4 separate regions of the Homo sapiens genome follow, and all the other regions are linked to region 1. The links come from fine-mapping of genetic effects on gene expression. A gene starts in region 1. Each other region holds a variant in brackets. All regions are shown on one strand. Distances are between the middles of the regions.

The links. PIP is the estimated chance that this variant, and not a neighbour inherited with it, causes the effect. A credible set is the group of variants that fine-mapping cannot tell apart.
Region 2: its variant is the best candidate, but not a certain one, in a credible set for the expression of PIK3C2B in whole blood (TOPMed, PIP 0.50).
Region 3: its variant is the best candidate, but not a certain one, in a credible set for the expression of PIK3C2B in whole blood (TOPMed, PIP 0.78).
Region 4: its variant is the best candidate, but not a certain one, in a credible set for the expression of PIK3C2B in esophagus mucosa (GTEx, PIP 0.70).

What each region holds. Positions count from the first base shown.
Region 1 is chr1:204,491,623-204,497,001 of GRCh38, forward strand. PIK3C2B (phosphatidylinositol-4-phosphate 3-kinase catalytic subunit type 2 beta) reads right to left here and starts at 3,183. Exons shown (of 33, transcript NM_001377334.1): 1 at 2,734-3,183. It overlaps LOC124904584 (translation initiation factor IF-2), which reads left to right and starts at 129. Exons shown (of 2, transcript XM_047439554.1): 1 at 129-139; 2 at 2,554-4,110. The coding sequence starts at 129. The coding sequence ends at 3,574. RefSeq lists silencers at 1,224-1,303, 2,863-3,332 and enhancers at 2,373-2,562, 2,633-2,762.
Region 2 is chr1:204,460,416-204,465,794 of GRCh38, forward strand. It overlaps PIK3C2B (phosphatidylinositol-4-phosphate 3-kinase catalytic subunit type 2 beta), which reads right to left. Exons shown (of 33, transcript NM_001377334.1): 3 at 4,804-4,904; 4 at 4,035-4,189; 5 at 3,597-3,717; 6 at 135-246. Among named protein-coding and RNA genes, the nearest start is that of PIK3C2B, 32 kb to the right of the region's middle. RefSeq lists a silencer at 1,786-2,080. The variant C/T (reference allele first, on the strand shown) is at 2,422.
Region 3 is chr1:204,601,207-204,606,585 of GRCh38, forward strand. LRRN2-AS1 (LRRN2 antisense RNA 1) reads left to right here. Exons shown (of 13, transcript XR_007066814.1): 7 at 1-1,945. Among named protein-coding and RNA genes, the nearest start is that of LRRN2-AS1, 40 kb to the left of the region's middle. The variant G/A (reference allele first, on the strand shown) is at 2,324.
Region 4 is chr1:204,434,999-204,440,377 of GRCh38, forward strand. PIK3C2B (phosphatidylinositol-4-phosphate 3-kinase catalytic subunit type 2 beta) reads right to left here. Exons shown (of 33, transcript NM_001377334.1): 22 at 5,194-5,323; 23 at 3,937-4,073. Among named protein-coding and RNA genes, the nearest start is that of PPP1R15B, 26 kb to the left of the region's middle. The variant G/T (reference allele first, on the strand shown) is at 2,295.

The DNA of each region.
Region 1 (5,379 bases):
CTGCACTCCAGCCTAGGCAACAGGGAGAGACCCTGTCTCAAGAACAAACAAAAAGAATGAACTCCACAATTTTGCTGTCCCTTTCTGTTCTCCCAAGACCCAATATCTCTCTGAGTAGCACTGAGGCTATGAACACAGGGTAAGGAGTGAGACTGCTTGCTTCAAATCCCACCTCTATCATTTACTAGCTGGCTGACATCAGTGAGTGTTAGTGATTACATTACTTGCCAGCTCAGCATTATCCTCTCTATAGGCAGTAGCCAGCCTTTGGAAGGTGTTTATCCCTCCTCAATTCCTACAAATATCATGAGGCATCCTTTCCTTCTCTCCCAGTTCCCATCCTGCCAACACTATTTAAAGAAAAATACCCAAGGAATACAGCAGTTACCTTGGTATTGTCACACTACTCTTTCCTTAGCAAGAAAGAAAAGGTCCCAAAACATTCCCTACTCCATGTGGCCCTCAGATCCCACCCTATCCCCATCCCTCACAGATCTCCCTCCCTTATGTGGGAGGCTAAACCCAGTAAGAATAATCATTTGTAAAGTACTCTGTAGTTTTCAGGGTACTTTTGCACACATGATTCTGTTTAGTTCTTGGTAAGCAGCATTTCATTATTAATCCTGTGAGCCATGGCTACTCCCCCACCTCCATTTTACAAATATACAAACTAAATCTTAGGTCCACAAATTGTCTGTGCTCACATAGCTAAAAAGAAAGTCACACCAAGACACTGTTTTCTCTACTACTTCACATTATGATGTCCAAGTTCACATCCTGGGAACATGAGGAGCCTGAACCTTATAGCTAGTTACAAGCCCCTAAAAGGAACAGAGACCTCATTTTTCTACCCACTGGTCCAGGCCAGGGCCATCCCAGCTGAAGCACCACAGACATGATATAGATGCAAAGCACCAGGCACAGGAGGAGTGGGGACACCACCAAGCGGGGACCAAAGGCCCACGAGGGTATAGAGTATCTGCCAGAGCATACTAGGTCATGACAAAGACCAAAGGCATTCCAGACCACCAAGGAAGTCCAAAGGAGCTCCCCCAGAAACAGCCCAAGTCCCCAGATAAACTGACCCTTCCTCACCCAGCACACCCCCTTGGCCCTTTCTCACTCATGCTTCCAGTGGAGAAGGAAATAGACAAGCAGCCGGGTCTGAGAGCTTGATCAGATTCAGCCATACACACTCAGCAGTAAGCTCAGAGCCATGGCAATCAAACCTCAGGCTCACCCAAAGGCCAAAGGAGAAGCAGCCACAGCCTGGGTCTAGGGCTCCAGCTCAGAGCCACCATCTCTTCAGATGCTGGCTGCCAAGCAGAGCTATAAAATGTGCCTCGACTTAATTTTTCCATGGACACAACCTCAAGATGGGCCAGCCAGACTCTGGAGGAGCTGGGATTCCAAAGTCTCACTGCCTGTCTGCTCTGGGATCGGCAGCTGGAGTTGGGGAGAGGGAAGTATTTGGGGGTCGGCATTGCCACCTCCTGGGCCATTTCTCTTCCTAATATCTTCCCAAAGCCTGATGCAGCAACAGAGTAAGTTTTCATTCAGCACTGATTCAGGGTTGGAATTTAGTACAAATTGCTTACATCTGCCTGGCCATATCCCAAATAGGTAGTTTAGAGCAAGGAGGAGGGGCAGCATTGGCCCACTTCTTGGAGCCCGGGTAGCCGCCTGCTAAAGAATCTGGTGCCATGCTGGGACCAGCCAGCCCAGGGTACAAAACTCTCCAACAGAGTTGAGAAAAAACAGCCCAAGAGAGCTGCCAGAGACAATACAGCGATTCCATCCCAGGCATGATTGGAAGGGCTGGGGCAGGGAAGCTACGAAGACCCCAGAAGCGGGTGGAGAGGAGAAAAGGCAGGCCTGAAGGAGCAAGAGCAATGGCAGAAAACACACACACACACACACACACACACACACTTCAACATCAGCCAACTAGGGTGTGTGCACTAACCTCATACATTTGGTAACCTCTTCCCACAATCCAGAAGCCTGCCAAGCCCCTGGGCTCCCCACCCTACTCCACCCCACACCAGCTTGGCAGCCTTGCTTGTGCTTCCTGCTGCGATTGCTCCTCCAACATCAAAGTCACCGCTGTCGGGAGCTGAAAATGAGGGACAAGTATAGGCCAGGAGAGCAGCGCCTTCTCCCAGCACCGGCGAACTCAGGCCTGAGGGTCCCTCTCCCTCTTTCAAGCTTTCAGTCTCCTTTTGCTGCAGTATCCTTATAAGGGAGAATCCAATTCTACCCTCCGCCCGACTAAGAAACGTACACATTCCCCAGGCTAGATGCCGACTTCTCACCCAGTCCACAGAAGGCACTAACCCCATCACAGGACAGGTTTTGCTTTTTTTATTTCTTATCTTAAATAAACAAACCCCAAAGCCATTGACTGGTTCAGATCGCCCTGCAGCTGGGAGCCAGGAAGTGTGTTTAGCGAGAAGGGGGTGGGGACGCGGGTGCCTGGAGCCCCAGAGGCCCTGAAGCTGCTGGAGTGGAGTGGAGTGGGGTGAGGGGCAACCTGCTCTGCCCGGCGGGCAGGAGCTCAGGCTCCCACGGCGTCCGCCGCTCAGCCCGCCGCCAGGAACCCTCGGCTGCTTCCATTGTTGCACCTCCGCTGTTGCCATGTTGGAGGGAGAGCCCCCTGACCTCGGCTGCCTCCACTCTGGGGGCACTTTACAGACGCTGGGGCCGATGCAACCCGCAGGATGCGTGTCCTACCTGCGCTAGCTGCTGGCTCTGCTGCAACATCCGACGTGTCTTGTGCCTGGCGACGTGGGCTGCTCGCTCCGCGCCTCCCGGGCTCGCTCTGCGGCTCCAGGCGCCTCTTGCACCAGCGCGAGAGGAGCTGGCCGGCCGCACGCCGCCTGCTCCCGGGCCGCTCCCCTCTCCAGGCTCCGCACAGACCCTAGGCTCCAAGGGGCAGAGGGAGAGGCAGCAAAGGGCGCAAGGACCAGCTTGTGGGGGTGGGGAGGGGTGCTCTCCGCCGAGAGCGTGCGCGAGCTCGCAGAGTCAGGCCACCCCGGGTGAGACAATAGCGGCAGCAGCGGGCGAGAGAGGGGAAGCCATCTCCCGGACACCCGGCGCACTGCACGGCGACGCGACGCTCGGCCAGACCCTGCCTGGACAGGCAGGCACCCGGCCGCCGGCTCCAGCCGCAGCGCCGAATCCGCCGCGAGCCGGAGGGCGGGGCGGCTGCTGGAACCCGGGCCGCCCTTCGCCTCTCCCCTCCCCTTCCCCCTCCTCTTCTCTTCTCCTCTCCTCCTCTCCCCTCCGACTCCCGCCCCACTTGCCATTGCGTGGGGGAAGAGAAACGCGCTGGCGTCAAGTTGTGCTCTGCAACCCAAGAGCCAGGATTTCCACTCCCCACTTGGGTGAGGGTTTTTGCGGATGGTCGTTAGTTTCCCCTGCTGGAACCCCTTGGCTTTGGGTCAGAGGAAAGCTCAATCATTCTGCTAGAAATGACGGTGCTGAGGTCCAGTTATCCGTTTCAGGAATTTCTACCATAATTACGGTAGCGATGTTCGGGGGATCCCCTACCTTGAGGGTTAGGTTGGGGTAGAGAGAGGCTGTCTCCGGGCTTTACACGCTCAGTGTCATTCGTCTTTCTGTCTCCTTCCTTCCTCCCTTTCTGGAAGGGGAGTCTCGTTTGTTTTTGTATTCGCCCAGGTGGATCTTCCGAGCTGCGATCCAGGAAACAGCAGTCAACCTAAGTAGGGAGGGGAGATAGAGGATCCTCCAACCCAACTAGGGTAGTGAGAAAAAAAAGTAAAAAAAAAAAACCTTTCATACAATATGTTATATTTAAATTTTCTACTCTAAATACCTTTCTTCCAGCAGTGGTCTCTGGAAGAATTTTCCTAAAGGCTCCACCCAAAAGAAACCATGAGTTGGCCAGCTCCTCGTTTGCATTTGGTTTGCATAGTACCAACGATCACTAATCTCAAAGTATATTTTCCTAAAAACGTGAATCGTGTTTTCCTCCACTGCCCTCATTTCTTCTTTCTTTCTCGACAGACTATGAAGATTAACACCTGGTCCTCAGCCTCTCAAGTAAAACCATGATTAAATAAATTTGTTATGCTTTTCTCTGGTTAACTTGTCTTTTGTTATAGAAGTGTCGGCTGTGACTCTTATGATGGGGAGGAAAGGGATCACTCCCCTTTCTGATCCTACAGTGCCTTCTGTACCCAATGCTTGTGACTTTCAGTATTCCACTTCACCCTCTGAATATCAAGAATAGCGTCCTCACCTATCACGCTTTCGTAATGATCAAAGGAGAGAATGTAGGTGAAACATCTTGATAATTAACTGAAGGCAGCTTGGTCTGCACATATGTCATAATGTATATGATGCTACTCCTGATCTCAGGAGCCACAGGGGTTAAAAAACGTGTCCGTGCACTTCTTCACCATACAAATATTTATGACAGCTTACTCTGTGTCTGTCATCAGGTCAAGCTCAGGAGCCTGAGAGAACAGAGTGTTACAGGGGCCACTGGTGGTTCTTTTTTTTTTTTTTTTTTTTGAGACGGAGTCTTGCTCTGTCGCCCAGGCTGGAGTGCAGTGGCGTGATCTCGGCTCGCTGCAAGCTCTGCCTCCCGGGTTCACGCCATTCTTCTGGCCCAGCCTCCGGAGTAGCTGGGACTACAGGCGCCCGCCACTATGCCCAGCTAATTTTTTCTTTTTTTTTTTTTTTTTTTTTGTATTTTTAGTAGAGACAGGGTTTCACCGTGTTAGCCAGGATGGTCTCGATCTCCTGACCTTGTGTTCCACCCACCTCGGCCTCCCAAAGTGCTGGGATTACAGGCGTGAGCCACCGCGCCCGGCGACCACTGGTGGTTCTATGCTGCTGGGGTGAAAAGTCTGAAGGAAAGAACTAACAGGAAGTAGGCATAGGTAGCTGAGTGGAGGATCAGATCACAGGCTTTATCATGCATTTTGGTAAGGAAAAAATTGAATAAAGAGAAACCAGGGCATGCCAAAAAGTTTAGGTGCTGTAGGTGACAGAGAACCTGCTGTGCACAAATGGAACTGGGAAGTAGTGTGACCAGAAAAAGACTTCCTGGCATATTATAGAGAAGGATTTGGAAGATGCACTGCATGTCTTCCGTTTGCCCCTCCAGATCTTCCTGGCCCTCTGGCTTCCTAGACTGGGTTGGCCAATGGGGGCCATGGCTGAAGATTGAATAAGGAGGGAGGTCAGGGGAAACTGGATATTTATTCTTCAGGATTCCTCTCTTTGGGGTCACAGTGCGCTGGCTGCCACCCTCAACCAAAGATCACAGCTTCCACGGGTGGTTCTCTCTCCCCTCCCTCTCTCTTTTGTTTTTCTTTTTTTCTTTTTCTTGAGACCGAGTCTCACTCT
Region 2 (5,379 bases), 31 kb before region 1:
TGACCTATTCAGAGAGGGGCGGTGCCCTTATCTCAGCTCAGCACTCCTACCCCCCTCCCACCTGATGTGTTCTATATTGTATTCCCATTCCACCTCCCCAGCCCTGGGCAACCCTCCACCACCCTCACACGAACCGTCCGGGCCAGGTCACTGCGCACAACCTTCTGCTCCATCAGCTGTAGCCGAATGTCAATGTCAAACTTGCGGCAGTATTGGATGTACTCATGACTGCCCAAGGCATGCTTGCTGGTAGGGTAGAGGGACAAGACCATTAGCATCCTGGGGACTCAGTGGCAAGGGAGATACATACCTTAGCCTTGGGGAGAGACATACAGAAAGAAGGTTTAGGTAAGGGGGTAGTACCCGTGTTGTACCCTACTTTGGCTCCTAGAAAATGACACGGTAGAGCTTAGGAGAAGGAACAGAGGTCTATCTAAACAAAAGCCACCTAATATACTTAATCCTTGGCCGGTATAAATATTGACTCTCTTAGATATTTATTACCCGTGTGGTAATCACTGGTTCACTCCAGGGCTGGGAACTGTTGGAGAGAGCGGGGAAACAGAGGCACATCACAGGGAGCAGTTGCTGAAGCCCTATCTTCTGGGCCTCTGTATAGGGGACAACCAGGAAGAGACATGTTGGAGTCCACCTGTGCTCAGGCTCCAGGGTGGGAGCTCAGCGAGAGACCCCTCTTCCAATGCTACCAACTAGGGTGCTGAGGCCAAAAAAACTTGGGGCAAGCCTACCAAGCCTCCAGATCAGTGTCCCCACCCAACTTCTTTTTCTGCCTTCCATCTGTTGGCCCTGCCTGCTTGTGAATAACCTTACAAATTTCTATGACTTCTTGAAAAGTCCCAAATGCATGCCAGTCCCACCTGCTCAAGCACCCATGTGTGAGACTCCCCCTTTCAGAGAGAAGGCCTAGGAGCCCTCGGCGATCCAACCTCTTCCTCTCTCCCAAATCACACCTTCAACAGCAAGGAAACCCAAGAGGAGGGGCAGAGGGAGAACTACCTCCAGGCCAGCACTGCAGGCCTGGGCCTGGCCTCAGCAGCTGGGTAACAGAAGCCGGAAAAGGACTTCCTTCCTCAGCAGAGCTGGGAATCTAGGCCAGAAATGGAGAGGAGAGGACAGGAGCATAAGGGGGGCAGTATATGTAAAAGCTGGCGGAGGTGCAGGGCCCAGGGTCGTCTAGGTCCCATGAGGGCTCGAGTGAGGGGTTCTCCACATCCTGAGAGGACCAAATCTCCGATCTAGACCCTCTCAGATCTAAGACTGAAGTGCAGCCAAAACCTGGAGGTGGTGAGGCTGGGCTGTGGGGCTGGGCCTGGTGGGAGAGCCTGGGAGGAAGGAAGAGTGTGGTGGGGCTGGGGGAGGTGGCAGGAAACCCAACCCTCCCACGGGACTGCCTCAAGGTTCTTATCTGAGAGCAGCCTGCATCCTGAACCCACTCACCCCCTCAGTATCAGCCCCTCCTGCCAGGCAGGGGTAGAAAATCTCAGGGCTTCCTTGGGAACTAGCAGATTTCTGGAACCCCCGGAGCGTCCTTTCCACCCCCATCCCAGGCAGTTGTCATGTGTTGGGGGTCTGGGGGCTGGGCCAGGAGACAGCATTGTGCTTTTCTGTTGGGTGGGAGTGGGGCTCCTAGGCCAGGAGTCATGCACACAGGTCCCCTGGGGACTTGCTTGATCTTCTCTGTGGAAGGCCTTCCTCTCTGTGCATTCAAGTGAGAGTATGAGGGGTGTGATCTGAGGACCGCTGACCCTGTCCCACCTCACTAAGAATATTTCACCTGAGTCTTAGCAGGAAGGTAGAACTTGACAGCTCCCACTACCTCCGGACCCAGGGGCTCCAGGATTTGGGGTGCTGCAAGGGAAATGGCAGTATCTGTGCAGCCCAGAGCCCTAGGACTTCTCTCCGTGGGCTGCTCCTTCCCTGCTGGTATTTACTGATTGCTCACAGGTCATTCTCACATTTCACCCTCACTGCAGCTTACAGAGGGCCCTGAGCATCAATCAGCCTTCACAACTAGTAAGTGGCAAGTCCGAATTCAAACCTGTGTAATGGCGTCAGCAGGAGCTCCAACTTATCCACTATGTCCCCTTTTTCCCTTCTAACAGTGGCAGGCCACCTGGCACTCTCTCTGCCAGGCAACCCTGAGTCTAGGACCCCTCCTGTTCCTCTAGGGGAAAAGTGTGTACATAAGTGAGTTTAAAGGTGGGGCACATTTGAAGGGTACCCTGGAGTTGTACCATACAGAACCCTGCCTCTTTCCTTTCCCTTAGCTTCGAGATGAGGAGGCAGAGGCCAGAAAGGACCCCACAATATCCTTAAATTTGAAATAAGCCCAGATAGCTGGGCACAGTGGCTCACACCTGTAATCCCAGCACTTTGGGAGGCCAAGGCGGGCAGATCACC[C/T]GAGGTCAGGAGTTCGAGACCAGCCTGGCCAACATGGTGAAACCCAGTCTCTATTAAAAAATACAAAAATTAGCCGGGCGTGGTGGTGCTTATGCCTGTAATCCCAGCTACTCAGGAGGCTGAGGCATGAGAATCGCTTGAGCCTGGGAGACGGAGGTTGCAGTGAGCTGAGTGAGATGGCGCCACAGCACTCCAGCCTGCACGACAGAGTGAGACTCTGTCTCAAAAAAAGAAAGAAGTCCAGAAATGAATCTTCCATCCTGACTGCCAAATCTTATGCTCTAGACATAGATCAACCATCCTTGCATCTAGACCTGAATGTAAGAGAGAGAAAAAGCAAGCAGTGGCACTTATAGGGCACTCCTAAGAAGTGAGACACAGGTCTCTCCTTTCTCTATTCCCAAAACGTGCTTCCTCCAAGTGGACAGAGACTGGGGGCAGGAGCGGCTCTGAAGCCTAAGAGAGGAAAGCAGATCTTATCTGTCTGCTGTCACACAGCTGTACCATCTGAGAAGTGATAACCTTGCCCCTGCCTCTCTTCCACTGCAGCCCTCCAGAGCCCAGGGTAGTGGAAAGGGGGTTGCCTCAGCTGGTCCACATCAGACTTTCCAGGGAGGCTGCTTTCCAGAGAGGGCACTGGATGGAGAGGAGCTGGAGGCACGCCTTTGGGAGGAGGATAACTAGCTGCACGGGCCAGCTGGGGAAAAGACTTGTTGGCAGGAGAATGGGGAGAGACAGTAATTGTAATTTCTCCCCTGGGCTCCACAAGGGAACTTCTGCCCAGTCCTCATTTTGCCCCAGCCATAAAAACACCACACATAATCTAGAGCAGGAGATACAGCACTACCCATATAGTCTCCCCAAGCCCACCCCTCCCCACAAATACACACATCTCTCCATAAGCAGAATCTGCAAGCAGATATGACCTAGTCTTTGCCTAATCCCAGCTCCAAGCTCTTTCCACAGCAGACTTGGCTCAGGACGTCAGCCAACCCTGCTGGAAGACAGAGCTCCTGGGGAAAGTGCTACGTGGCCGAGAGTGTGCCCAGAAAGCAGGAGTCTTGACTGTGGGATTGGGGCGGAGCTGCCAGGCCGGTCCCAGCACCAATCCCATGAAGCCCCCTCACAATCTTACTACCAGGAAGGCAGGGGCTACCTCCCACCCATTCACTCACTTCTGCAGGAACTCCTCCAGCCCGCAGGGCTTTAGCACAAAGTCACCCACGTCCACATTCCTCAGGTCATCATGGGTGTAGCACAGGGTCTGGTAGATAAGCAAGTCTACAGTGGAGGAACCTGTGAAGGGTAAGGTAGGGGGAGCAATCATGATGGATGTCAAGGCAGATGGGTCTCAGTTTCCCCACCCTGATCCCCCTTTCCAGCTAAGTATTCTCCAGCACCATCACCAACCAGATAAAGCAGGCAAGTAGTTCAGAGTTGAGGAAAGTGACTGTACTAGAATGCTGGCCCCATAGCCAGCCCCTCACCCCCAAAGGAGCATCCTCACTGCCCTTCATCTGGGCCACAAGATGAGGTGGAAATCGAGTCAAAACACAGTCATCCCCACCCCACTTCAAGGGATGCTCACATCCTCTCCCCCCTCACTAACTTACAGTTGCAGGTGAAAGTGAGTGCCTCTTGAAGCCTGTCACACAACACAGTCACCTTCAGGTTGACCTCATCCCCGAGGTGCTCTGGGCTAGGGGTGACAGCACTCCAGACATAGCCAGTGAGGAAGTAGTCTTGGATGTCAGAGCCAGATCGAAGGCTGTACAGGAAGAAAAAAAACCCTCACTGTGCCTTTAGAAGAGAGTAGTCAAGAAGACATCTGTTGGGAACCTCATGCTCTGAGGCTCAAGAGCCCCTCTGTCCCCACTCAGCCCAGCCCTCCAAATTTGCAGGCCAGGATGGGGGCAGTGGGGTAGCAGCTCTGAGAAACCCCCTTCTTGACACTTCTCTTATAATTGCAAAATGTTTCCCACCATTGAACAGTACAAATAGTTCTAAAATGACAAAGCTTTCCATGCTAAGTTTAATGGAAAATTTTTTATGAATCCATTTCCTTTCTCTTTTAGTTCCAGATAACACTCTTATCGCCAGCTGGGGTGCATTTGCTCTTAAGGGCAACTGAGGGTCAGACTCTAGAGTGATCAGGATACTTTGACCATTCAATGGAGGTTTCATGAATTTTGCTAAAAATGTGAGACTTCTAAGATTTCAAAAACCCTGCAGACACTTGTTGTAGGAAGCATTTTCATAGCTATGAACTGAGATTTACTTATTATGGTGCTTCTTCCCTCCTAAAGAAAGTTTGGAAATGGATGGCCCCCCTCCCCATCCCCCATAGCCCTCCCAAATCCCACCCCATTCTTTAACTCTTACATATCCAGCATGTGGCAAAATGCAGCAACCTCCTCATCTCTCTCTTCTGAGACCTCAAACAACTCATGGCCATTGGCAACAGTGTGGGGCCGGGAGCCCACCTTTAAGAGAAGAGCAGACGACTCAGTGCCTTTTTCCTCGTGGTGTCCCCTCCCTATGAGGTACTCCAGACCTAAACTCAAACTCTAGATGAAAAGACTTTCTAGTCACTCGACATCCAATGAAAGGGGCACAAGAACATATGGGACATCCGGGAATACATGTATCTGCTGTCCTAGGAGACCAGGAGCCAAGTTGAAGAAGGAGGCGAAGCTCTGGCTGAGATGGACAAGAGTGTGGCCAAAGCCACTTCAGGAGGGGACAGTCTGATAAGCGTGAGGCAGCCAGTAAGGCAATCCAGTGCTGTTGGGCCTCTCCTGCAACACGGGCTTTCCGGGGGATTCTCCCAGAGGCGTGACAGGGAGCAGAGCAGACAGCTGTTTTTCCCAGCCCCTCTACTGAGGCTAGAGCAGGTGGGCGGCCCAAATGGTGCCCAGGGAAGCTTGGCCCTGGTCTAAAGCCTCAATATCCACAAGC
Region 3 (5,379 bases), 110 kb after region 1:
GCTAGCTGGGTAGCAAAGGTCCACATTTCACCCACCTGCCATGGGAGAGGTTGGTGCTAGAGGGGAGAGAGGGCTTGGGCTCGGGAATACGATAGACTCTGGTTTGAATCCTGGACCTGGCACTGGGTAAATCACATAAACTTTCTGGACCTCTGTTTCTTTGTCTAAATGTGAGGTTAAAACTCTTGACCACGGCACAGAGGATGTTTCGGGCAGTGAAAGTACTCTGTAGGATACTGTAATTAATGGTCGATACATGTCATTATACATTTATCCAAACCCACAGAATGTATAACATCAAGAGCTGCCCTAATGTGAACTGGAGACTTCGAGTGACAACAATGTGCCCATGTAGGTCATTGATTGTAACAAATGGATCACTGTGGTGGGGCACGGGGGAGGCTGTGAGCATGAGGGCAGGGCTGTGTGGGAACTCTCTGTACCATCTGTTCCATTTTGCCCTGAGCCTAAAACTGCTCTAAAAAGTAAAGTCCATTAAAAAACAAACAAACAAACACAAAGCAAAATAAAACAAGATCATGAATTATTCGTGAATCATGAATTCAGAATTATACTTAGTCTTCTTGTAAAACATAATTTTGTATACTGCTTTAGATGACACAAACGACTCCCTACCTCCTGGGATTTTTGGGAGGATTGAGGATAATGTGTCATAAACAATGTAATAATGGGGGCAATAATAATAATAATCCATAATAGTAGCTCTAGTTGTACAGAGACCCCTGCCCACCCCTCCCATCCTCTCCTGGACGGCATGGGAGTGAAAGGGCTAATAGATGTGGAAATTCTTTGGGCTTCCGCATGCTGTTTTTAGTTAAAATGACATGACAATAGTACTTACATAAAATTTTCTAATCCTTTGTGTCCCTAGAATATGAAGCTCTGGTGCCCTGGGGTGAGCACGAGCACTTCTAGAGGCAGGCTTTCCTCCCCTCCTCTCCCCTGAATCATTGCTCTTCCCGTCTGAATGTTCCCAGTTCAGGGACTTGCTGTTTATCAGCCACAGGAAAAGATTCAGGATGCAATAGGGTAGATTTTTGTCTTGCTAAGTCTCCATGCTCCACAGGGAATGGCCAATTAGAGTCCAGCCCAGACTCATACATCACTGTCACACCTGGCTCCTTGGGCCTGGGGGCCGGGCCGGCTCCCAGGGAGGCATCCATAGATCATAGCCATCTCCTAGCAAGAGGAAGAGGAGGTGTGGGTGGGGTGGTGGGAGGTGGTGAGGTCTGGAGGGGGCAGAACATGATCTTTGGTCGGAAGCTGGAACGTCAGGGAGGGGCTTGAAGAAACCATGAATTCTTCATTACTAAGTGCCTTGTGGCAGGGTAAAGCCAGATAAATTTAAATATGCCCATCACCCAGAGCTTTAGAGCAGTTTTCCAAAGAAACTCAAGGGTTTGTGTTTCATTTGTGTGGTCCCTGCCCCTTTTTTCCCCTACCCTTATTATCCATAATTCTGGGGAGGCACTAAAAGCAAAGAAAGAAATCAAAAGCTCTGGCTGATTTTTAACTTGATATGGTGGCAGGTTAGAGCCCTCTGTGGTTGTGTGGGTGCGGGGCGGGGGGGTAGGAGTCTGATGCCCACCCACCACTCCCAGGTCTCATCATCCTCATGGTTCAGTCCTTCACACATTCACTCATTCATTCACTCTTCAAAAAGCTTTTAATAAACACCTACACTGAACCAGGCCATGTTCTGGGTGCTAGGGAAAGAAGTGGACAAGACTCTGCTCTCTTCATGGAACCGAGTATTCTAAGGACACAGCCAAGTCAGGAGACTACACCCCTAGTATAATAAGTCCTGTGGCTGTACTGAGAAGAGGTCCTGACTCAGAACTGGAGGACATCATGGAAGGCTTCCTGGAGGAAGTGCCATCTAGGCTGAAACCTAAAGGATGAGTAGAACTAACCAGATGAAAAGGTAAGGAAAAAGGGTCGTGTGGAGGAGAATGTTCCAAGCTGAGAGAACATTGTGTATGAAGGCCCAAAGGAGACAGCAAGTGTGGTTTGTTCTAGCAACTGAAACACATTTGATGTGGCTGGATCTCAGAGTGACGGGAGAGCCAGCATGAGATACCGAGGCCAGGTCATGCAGGGCTGTAATTGTGCAAGGCATCTGGACTTTAGTCTGAGGACAGTAAGGAGCCTCAGAAACGTTTAAAGCCAGGACATGGTAGCACCAGATTTGGATTTTAGAATGAGACTATTGGCTGCTGACTCTCCACCACAAAGCAGAGAGGCTGGGTTGGAGGATATCATGGTGGATGGGGGAGAGGTGGTAGTGGCATTGCACCTCCAC[G/A]CCTGTTCCTGCACTTCCACACCTGTTCTCCCAAGTCCAGACTCTCCTTTCATCTCCTTGCCCTTGCTGTGGACCACGCAGCCAACTCAGGAGGAGGTGGTAACCCACTGCTTCCTCATCCCAAATCTGTCTCATTGCTGTGGGAGCTTCTACCTGAGACCACTGCTCTTGGGTATTTGTTTTACTCCTTGCCTTGGAAGCCCTGGTTTTCTTTGTTCCTCTCAGGCCTGCTGGAGGTCATGACTCCTCAGGGGCTGGATAATGGCCATGAGATTTCTCCAGAAATGAAAATAGGGGGTTCTGAAGAGAAGGCAGAGAAGGGCTGAGATTGCAGGCCAAACCCGACTGAGGTCTTGGGTTCTCATTTCAAGTCCAGAGGTGCTGGGGCAGCTCCTAGTTCTCAAAGACTCAAACGCAAAGCAGGTGGAGAAATGGAACCCTTGTGCACTGCTGGTGGAAATGTAAGATGATGCAGCCACTATGGCAAACAATAAAAAATAGAATTACCATATGATCCAGTAATCCCGCTTCTGGGTATATATCCAAACAAATGGAAAACAGAGTCTTGAAGAGAGATATTTGCATACATCCATGTTGATAGGAACCTTATTCACAGTAACCAAGAGGTGGAAGCAACCCAAATGCCCATTGGCAGATGAATGGATAAACAAAATGCGGTACATACATGCCAGGGAATATTACTCAGCCTTAAAAAGGAAGGAAAGTCTGACATGTTCTACAACATAGGTGAACCTTGAGGACATTGTGCTAAGTGAAATAAAAGACAAATACTGTATGATTCCACTTACATGAAGTATCTAAAGCAGTCAGATTCATAGAGATAGAAAGTAGAATGGCAGTTGTCAGAGGCTGGGGCTTGCGGGGATGGGGAGTGGTTGCTTAATGGATACAGAGTTCAGTTTTGCGAAATGAAGAGTTCAGGCTATTGGTTTACAACAATGTGAACATACTTAGTACTATTGAACACTTATAAATGGTTAAGATGATAAATTTTGTTATGTGCTTTTTACCACCATTAAAAATAAGAAGAAAAGAAAGTAGATGATTTACATTTTTTAAAAAAGCAAAGCAGGGCTGGGCACGGTGGCTCATGTCTGCAGTCCCAGCACTTTGGGAGGCCAAGCGATCACTTGAGCCTAGGAGTTTGAGAGCAGCCCAGGCGACATGGTGAAAATCTATCTCTACAAAAAATACAAAAATTAGCCAAGCACGGTGGTGCTTGCCTGTAGTCCCAGCTACTCAGGAGGCTAGAGTGGGAGGATTGCTTGAGCTCAGAAGGTTGAGGCTGTAGTAAGCTATGGTGGTGCCACTGCACCCCAGCCCGGGCGACAGTGTGAGACCCTGTCTCAAAAAACAAAAACAAGCTGGGCGTGGTGGCTCATGCCTATAATCCTAGCACTTTGGGAGCCTGAGGTGGGCAGATTACTTGGGGTCAGGATTTCGAGGCTAGCCTGGCCAACATAGCGAAACCCCATCTCTACTAAAAATATAAAAATTAGCCAGGCATGGTGGTTGTGTGCCTATTGTCCCAGCTACTTGGGAGGTTGAGGCAGGAGAATCACTTGAACCCGGGAGGCAGAGGTTGCAGTGAGCCTGGGCAAGAGAGTGAGACTCCGTCTCAAACAGCAACAACAACAAAAAACAACAACAATGACAAAACTAAAACACACACACACAAACCATACACATACACAAAACCGAAACATAGAACCTGCCCTTTCTTTTAAAAAAATAAAAATAAAAAACCAAAAAAAAGCAAAGTGAAGGTAAGGGTGGGGAAGGTAAGGCTTTGGATAAAAAACCAAAAAAAAGCAAAGTGAAGGTAAGGGGTATAGGAAGTGAGAGGTCAACCCTGACTCAGACTCCCCCCATTTGAGTAGCACTGGATTCCCAGGCACTCTTTCCCCTGCCTGGGGATGGGTGGGGACCCAGAGAGGCAGCTGGAGGAGAAGGCCCTGGGTGCTTAACTGAAACCAAAACAGCCAAGAATCACAGCTGCCATTTTCCCTAACTGCACCTCCTCCACACACATACCCCACTTCTTCTCTCCTCTCTGCATGTATTTATAACTTACTTTCCCCTTGGCATTCACCTTAGCCTGTTTCTTCTCTATAAAAATAGTGGGGAGGCTGAGAGGTGGAAACACAGTGTTGCTTTGGGTCCCGTACCCAGGAAGGTCTGCCTTCCTATTCCTGCCACCTGTTTTGCCTCTCTGGGGTCCCACTGGAGGCAGAGGATGTACGGGATGAAAGCTGGGAAGCCTCCCTGCCCATACAGGGAACGTCAGCATGGAAGGAAAGGCTGCTAATTGCTGCCGATTTCCCTTTCACTGAGTGAAATGTGACTTTGCACTTCTCCATCCTCCTGCTGGCCGAAGCAGCCAGACCTATGGGGGACCCTCAGCACCGGCCTGCTGGCCACACACCCAGATGGGCTGGACATAGGGCATCCGGGGGCTCGAGTGGTTTCTCAGATGTGCCCTCCTCCACTACCTCCAGGGGTGCCTCTAGCCCTTGGCTTCCTCTGCCACATGGCCTGGTCCATTGCATGTCTATGTTCCTGAGATCTTGACCATATACATCACAATTTAATTCCTCAATATGCCTGGCATGTTAGATGTAGATTTTTGGGCCTCTCTTGACTGGAGTGTGGCGGGTATCCATATAGGAGGCCAACAGGAAGGTGGTGGTGGTGATGGTGGATCTACATCCTCCTCCAAAAACAAGCCCACTCCCTCCTCCTTGGCAAAGCCTTCGCCAACCATTCTAGTCTTCTTGGACCTCCCCTTCTGAACTGTTAATCTGCATTCCCCTTAATCTAACTCTTGATCATCGCTGACTTGTACTTGACATAGTACAGAAATTCTTTCACTGGTAATACTGGACTCCTTAACCAAGTGTTAGACTCCTGGAGGGAAACACTCTTCATTGCTTCCTCGATTTTTTGCAGCAGGATCTTTTTTTTTTTTTTTTGAGACAGAGTCTGGCTCTCTCGCCCAGACTGGAGTGCAGTGTTGCAATCTCAGCTCACTGCAA
Region 4 (5,379 bases), 57 kb before region 1:
GATGATCTTAAGTACAGCCACTGAGGAAGCCAACTTAAGAATCTCTTCCTGACCCTGCTCAGAATTCTATCATCCTTCTTCCTGCCCCAAATAAAATTCCCATTTCCAGAGTTCTTGGTAACAGCTAAATGCTAATCTAATTAAAGTCACTGCACTCCAAAGAAGAGCTGAGGCAGCTTAACACGTCTAGAGAGTGTTTTACACTTGAAAATGGGACATCTTTAGTTGGTAAAATATGTTAGAGATATTTCTGAGTTTAAAGCAGGAGAGGAGTGGTGAGGGGTTGACTCCATCTTATTTTGTCTGGTCAACATCCATCCCCTTATCTGTCTTTCCAGAAAGAAAAACTACATGGAATGAGGAAATAGACCACTCCTGCCTTCAAAATCCTCTTCGTGAGGTTTATAGAATTCCTAAGAACTCAGGAAAGACATCAGCAGAGAGCAATGATCGTCATAGCCAGGTAGGAATGCATGAAATTAGGAATGAGGGAAAGCTTACTAGATATGGAATGCCCGCCCTCCTTGCCTCCTTCCATAAATTTCCACCCATCATCCTTCAATGACCTTGAGTCCCATAACTTTCCAGACCTTCCAAGCTCATACTGACTTCTCCTCCTCTGAACCCCTACAGATGCACTGTCACCTCCATTCATACAGCACTGACTTTGCCCTTTCAGTCCCATGGGGTTTACAGATCTGTTCTCCTAACAGCTTCTTGCCTATTTCACAATGCCTATTGCAAAACTAGCTCCACACAGAATGCACCCACCCAGCTACTTGTCGAATTACAACCTGATGATGGATCCACCAGAAACTAAGAATGGAAAGGTTATAAAGAAATCACAGCATTCATCTTCTGGAAGAAAAAGACTATTTCTTAGAAAGTAAAATAAATGAATAAAAGCACTTAATAAGGAGCATAACGCGTAACTCCCAGTCGTGACCTGGATCTCTATCAAATCCTCTCCCTGTCACAGATGCTCTTTCTACCTTAAATGAATCCTATTTTGGCTGAGAAAATAGCTGTGTGCCTGTGGGTAAATGACTAAACTCTTTTCACCTCCCTAAGTTATGCAGGGTGTTAGCCACTTACTGGCAAGAAGTCTCACTCTATAAAGGGACACTCTGCCTCTGATTTCAGGGGTTTCATGTGTAGGGTGTGGGATACTCTCTTGCTGAGTAGGTGGCCAAGAGAAAATACCTCTAGTTTCTTTCTTCTGGAAGTCATCAAATGAAACTACCAGCATTGCTGGGGGTGGTGGCTCATGCCTGTAATCCCAGCACTTTGGGAGGCTGAGGTGGGTGAATCTCTTGAACCCAGGGGTTCAAGTCCAGCCTGGGCAACATGGCAAAACCCCATCTCCACGAAAAATAGAAAAATTAGCTGGGCATGGTGGCACATGCCTGTAGTCCCAGCTACTTGGAAGGCTGAGTCAGGAGGATCACATGAACCCAGGAGGTGGAGGTTGCAGTGATTGTGCCACTGTATTCCAGCCTGGGTGACAGAGTGAGACCCTGCCTCAAAAAAAAAGAAACTACCAGCATTATTCTTGGAGAAAGGCTAGAAGGGCAGAGAAGCTATCTTTGAAAGACTGAGATTAAACATGAACATGCAGAGTTAGTTTCTCTCTGTGTGTATTCTCGTACATTCTTCTGTACATTTATTTTTATTATATTCTTATACATTCATCTGTACATTTATTATTATTTAGTATTATTTCCATACATTTACACATATATGACTATTACATTGGCAGGGAGTAATCACAACTCCAGCACCTAGTACAGTGCCTCTGCATATGGGTGTTTAATACCTGAAAAATGCATATTAGCATAAAGAGTAAGTATATGGGAGGTTGGTAGTAGAAAGGAAAAAAATCATTACTCCTCTCCAAGGGTAGAGGGCCTTGAAATGTATAGCATAGAGTGGCAGAGTTTTGAGGAATGAGAAGGGAAGAAATGACTTTCCAGGCAAAGGAAATATTACTGCCTACAGTACTGCAGAAATGAAAGTAGTAGCCCCCCCTGCCCCCACCGCATGATCTAGCTAGTAACCTAGCTGGAGCATAGGTTAGCATAAGATGGTAGGTTGCAGTGGATGGGATTACAGGAGTCAGCAGGGCTGGATTATAAAAGGCTCTGTGTGCAATGCTATCTGTTAGGATACACAGAGGCTTTGAAGAACTTATCCACACTTAAAAAAAAAAACAACAGCTGGGCACTGTGGCTCATGCCTGTAATCCCAGCACTATGGGAGGCTGAGGTGGGTGGATCACCTGAGGTCAGGAGTTC[G/T]CGACCAGCCTGGCCAACATGGTGAAACCCCTTCTCTACTAAAAATATGAAAATTCGCTGGGCATGGTGGTGCACGCCTATAATCCCAGCTACTTGGGAGGCTGAGGCAGGAGAATCGCTTGAATCCAGGAGGTGGAGGTTGCAGTGAGCCAAGCTCGTGCCATTGCACTCCGGCCTGGGCAACAAGAGCAAAACTCTGTCTCAAAACAACAACAACAACAACAAAACACCTCTGAAATCAAGCAGAGGCTGGCTCTAGATGGAGGAGAGGCATTCCAGTGGTTCAGGGGACCGACAGCAAAGAGCTGAACAAAATCAATGGTAACAAAATAGGAAGAAGAGGACAGATTTGAGAGATAGCTGGGAAGAAGAATAAACAGAGCATGGTACAGAAGTGAGATAGAGGGAAGCATCAGGAAGACCGTGGCTTTGGCTTGGGTAAATGCACAGAAAGAGTCACACCATTGACTGATAGCAAACACAAAAAGCAGGTTTCAAGAGGCAAAGGAGAGACAGCAGGCTCAGTTTTGCCTACACCGAGTTTGAGACGTGGGTGAAACGTAGGTGGAAAAGTCCAGCAAGAAGGTGGCTATAGAACCACCTGGAGGAAGGGAAGAGGGCTAGAGGAATGGCTTCGGAGGTCATCAAGATACAGGTGGTAGTTGAAGTAATAAGAGGATGAGCTGGCACAAGAAGAGTGCAAAGAGGGCCCAGCAGGCCAGGAATTAAGCCCCGGGGAACACAAACACTGAAAGCCATTTAAGATCATCTAATTACACATTCACTAAACAATGTTCTGATTATACCTTGGCTGCCCATGCTGGTTTTCCCTCCAGGATAAAGTACATTGATCAATATAAATCAGTATTTGGGTCCCTTGAAGTTAAAATTATACGAATTAGCATTCTGGCCTATAGCCAGTCTCTTGTGAGTTTGGTTATTGTGATTTGTTCCTTCCCAGTGTCCCTACTTTCCTCAACCTAATTAACCCAGAGACTAGAGTTGTGATGCTGGGAACAGGCCACGGACCCTAGCAGGCTACCAGGGCCCTACCACCCAGGAAAGCTCCACTTCTAATCTAATCTTCTTTCATCAGGAACCAGCCAGCCCTGTTTTCACTCGTCTCTGTCTCATATCTAACCTCAATCCTAGCTTTGAGTTACAGCCTTGCCACATATCAGCTCCATAACTAGGAATGAATGAGTGAATCTTAATTCACAGCTATGAAAAGAAGGGGCTGGCATAAAATGATCTCTAAAGTCTCTTCCAACCAACTCTTTTTCTAGAAAGTACCACTGAACCCTCTGAGAACATAAGGGAACCTGAAGAGGATCCACAACTGGGAGGGATACAGATAGGCTCTCAAAAGCTGGCGCCTCCTCCAAGACTTAATCTGCCAGGAGAACTCAGTGAAAGTTTCTCAGTCCAGCATCAGGGGATTTTCTCAGCCAGCTTACAAGAGGCATTTGAGTGAGTCACCCCCAGATATTTGGAGGCACCAGTCAACCAAGAAAGGGTAGGTCCTTCTGCCAACAAAGCTGAGCTGTCCTCTCTGAGCAAGTGCAGGTCTTGTGGTTAAAGAGCTGTGTGCCGGCATCAGGCACACACACACACCAGACGCACTCCCCACCCACAACCCTACCTTCTCATACTCGTCCTCCCCAGGGTTGTGTTTCTGCAGCCAGTCTGCCAGGGGCCGGTCCTTGAACGAGCCGGTCACCCCATGCTCCACCTGGATCTTACGCAGGGTCTCAGCATTAGGGATCATCTCCACCATCCCTGTGAGGGGAGAAATGGGGGTCACGTTCCAGACCAGAATGAAGGGGACTGCAGGGAGAGGACTACAAGGACTGTGCTCATGCTTCCCTATAAATTAAGCTGTAAGGCATTTGGACTAAGTCTGATAATAACAGGAAGAGAATAACCATAGAAAGGAAGGTCATTCCCACATTTCCTATTCCATACTGTGACTTTTTGGTCTCTCCAGTTCATAGCTGCTGCTCCCTTTGTTTTTAGCTTTTACTATGGGAATTTGAAAATATATATAAGAATAAAAAGAATGGTATCATGACTTCACATGTAACTATCACCCAGCTTCAAAAATTGTCAACATTTTGCTAATCTTGTTTGCTAATCACACAACCCTATTTCTCCACTCCCTGCCACCTTGGTTGGAGTATTTTAAAGCAAATCCCAGATACTTTATTTCACTCATAAATATTTCAAGTGTAATTAACAAAGACACCATGCCATTGTCACATCCAAAAAATTAACAATCACTCTTTAATCTAACTCAATCTATATTCAAACTTCCCCCAACTGTCTCTCTCCTTCTCTCTCTCTCTCTATATATATATTTTCACACAGGGTCTCATTCTGTCGCCTGGTCTGAAGTACAGTGGCACCATCATGGCTTACTGCAGCCTCAAATTCCTGGACTCAAGCGATCCATCTGCCTCAGCCTCCCGAGGAGGTGGGACTGCAGGCACATGCCATTAGGCCTGGCTAATTTTTTATAATTTTTATTAGAGATGAGGTGTCTAGGTTGGTCCCAAACATTCCTGAGCTCAAGCAATTCTCCCATCTCAGCTTCACAAAGTGCTGGGATTACAGGCATGAGCTAGCATGTCTGGCCCAAAAAATATTTCCTTACAATTGGTTTGTTTTAATCAGGATCCAAAGTCTACACAATATGCTTGGCTGTCACGGCACCAAGTCTGTTTTACTTTATAACAGTCTTCTCCCATGCCTCCCTTTTAAGGCTATCCCACAGCTTCTCATGAAATAATCTTGCCCTTTTCACTTTCCTGGAGGAGGACACAGTTTGTGTTGGCAATGGGCAGAAGGACAATAAGCAAAGCGGTCCCCTCCTCCACCCTCACCCCTACTCCCAACTGACCTCTGCCCCGGCCGGTGGAGAAGCAGCGGAAGATGACCATGCGCATGTCCAGCCCCTCCTGGACCCAGATCTTGCTCATGATGCGAATCATCTGCAGCGTTAGCATGTCCTGGCGAAGGTCGTCCCCACACTGGATGGAGGGAGAAAGTGACCAGATCTAATCTCCACTACCTCCCCAGCTCTCAG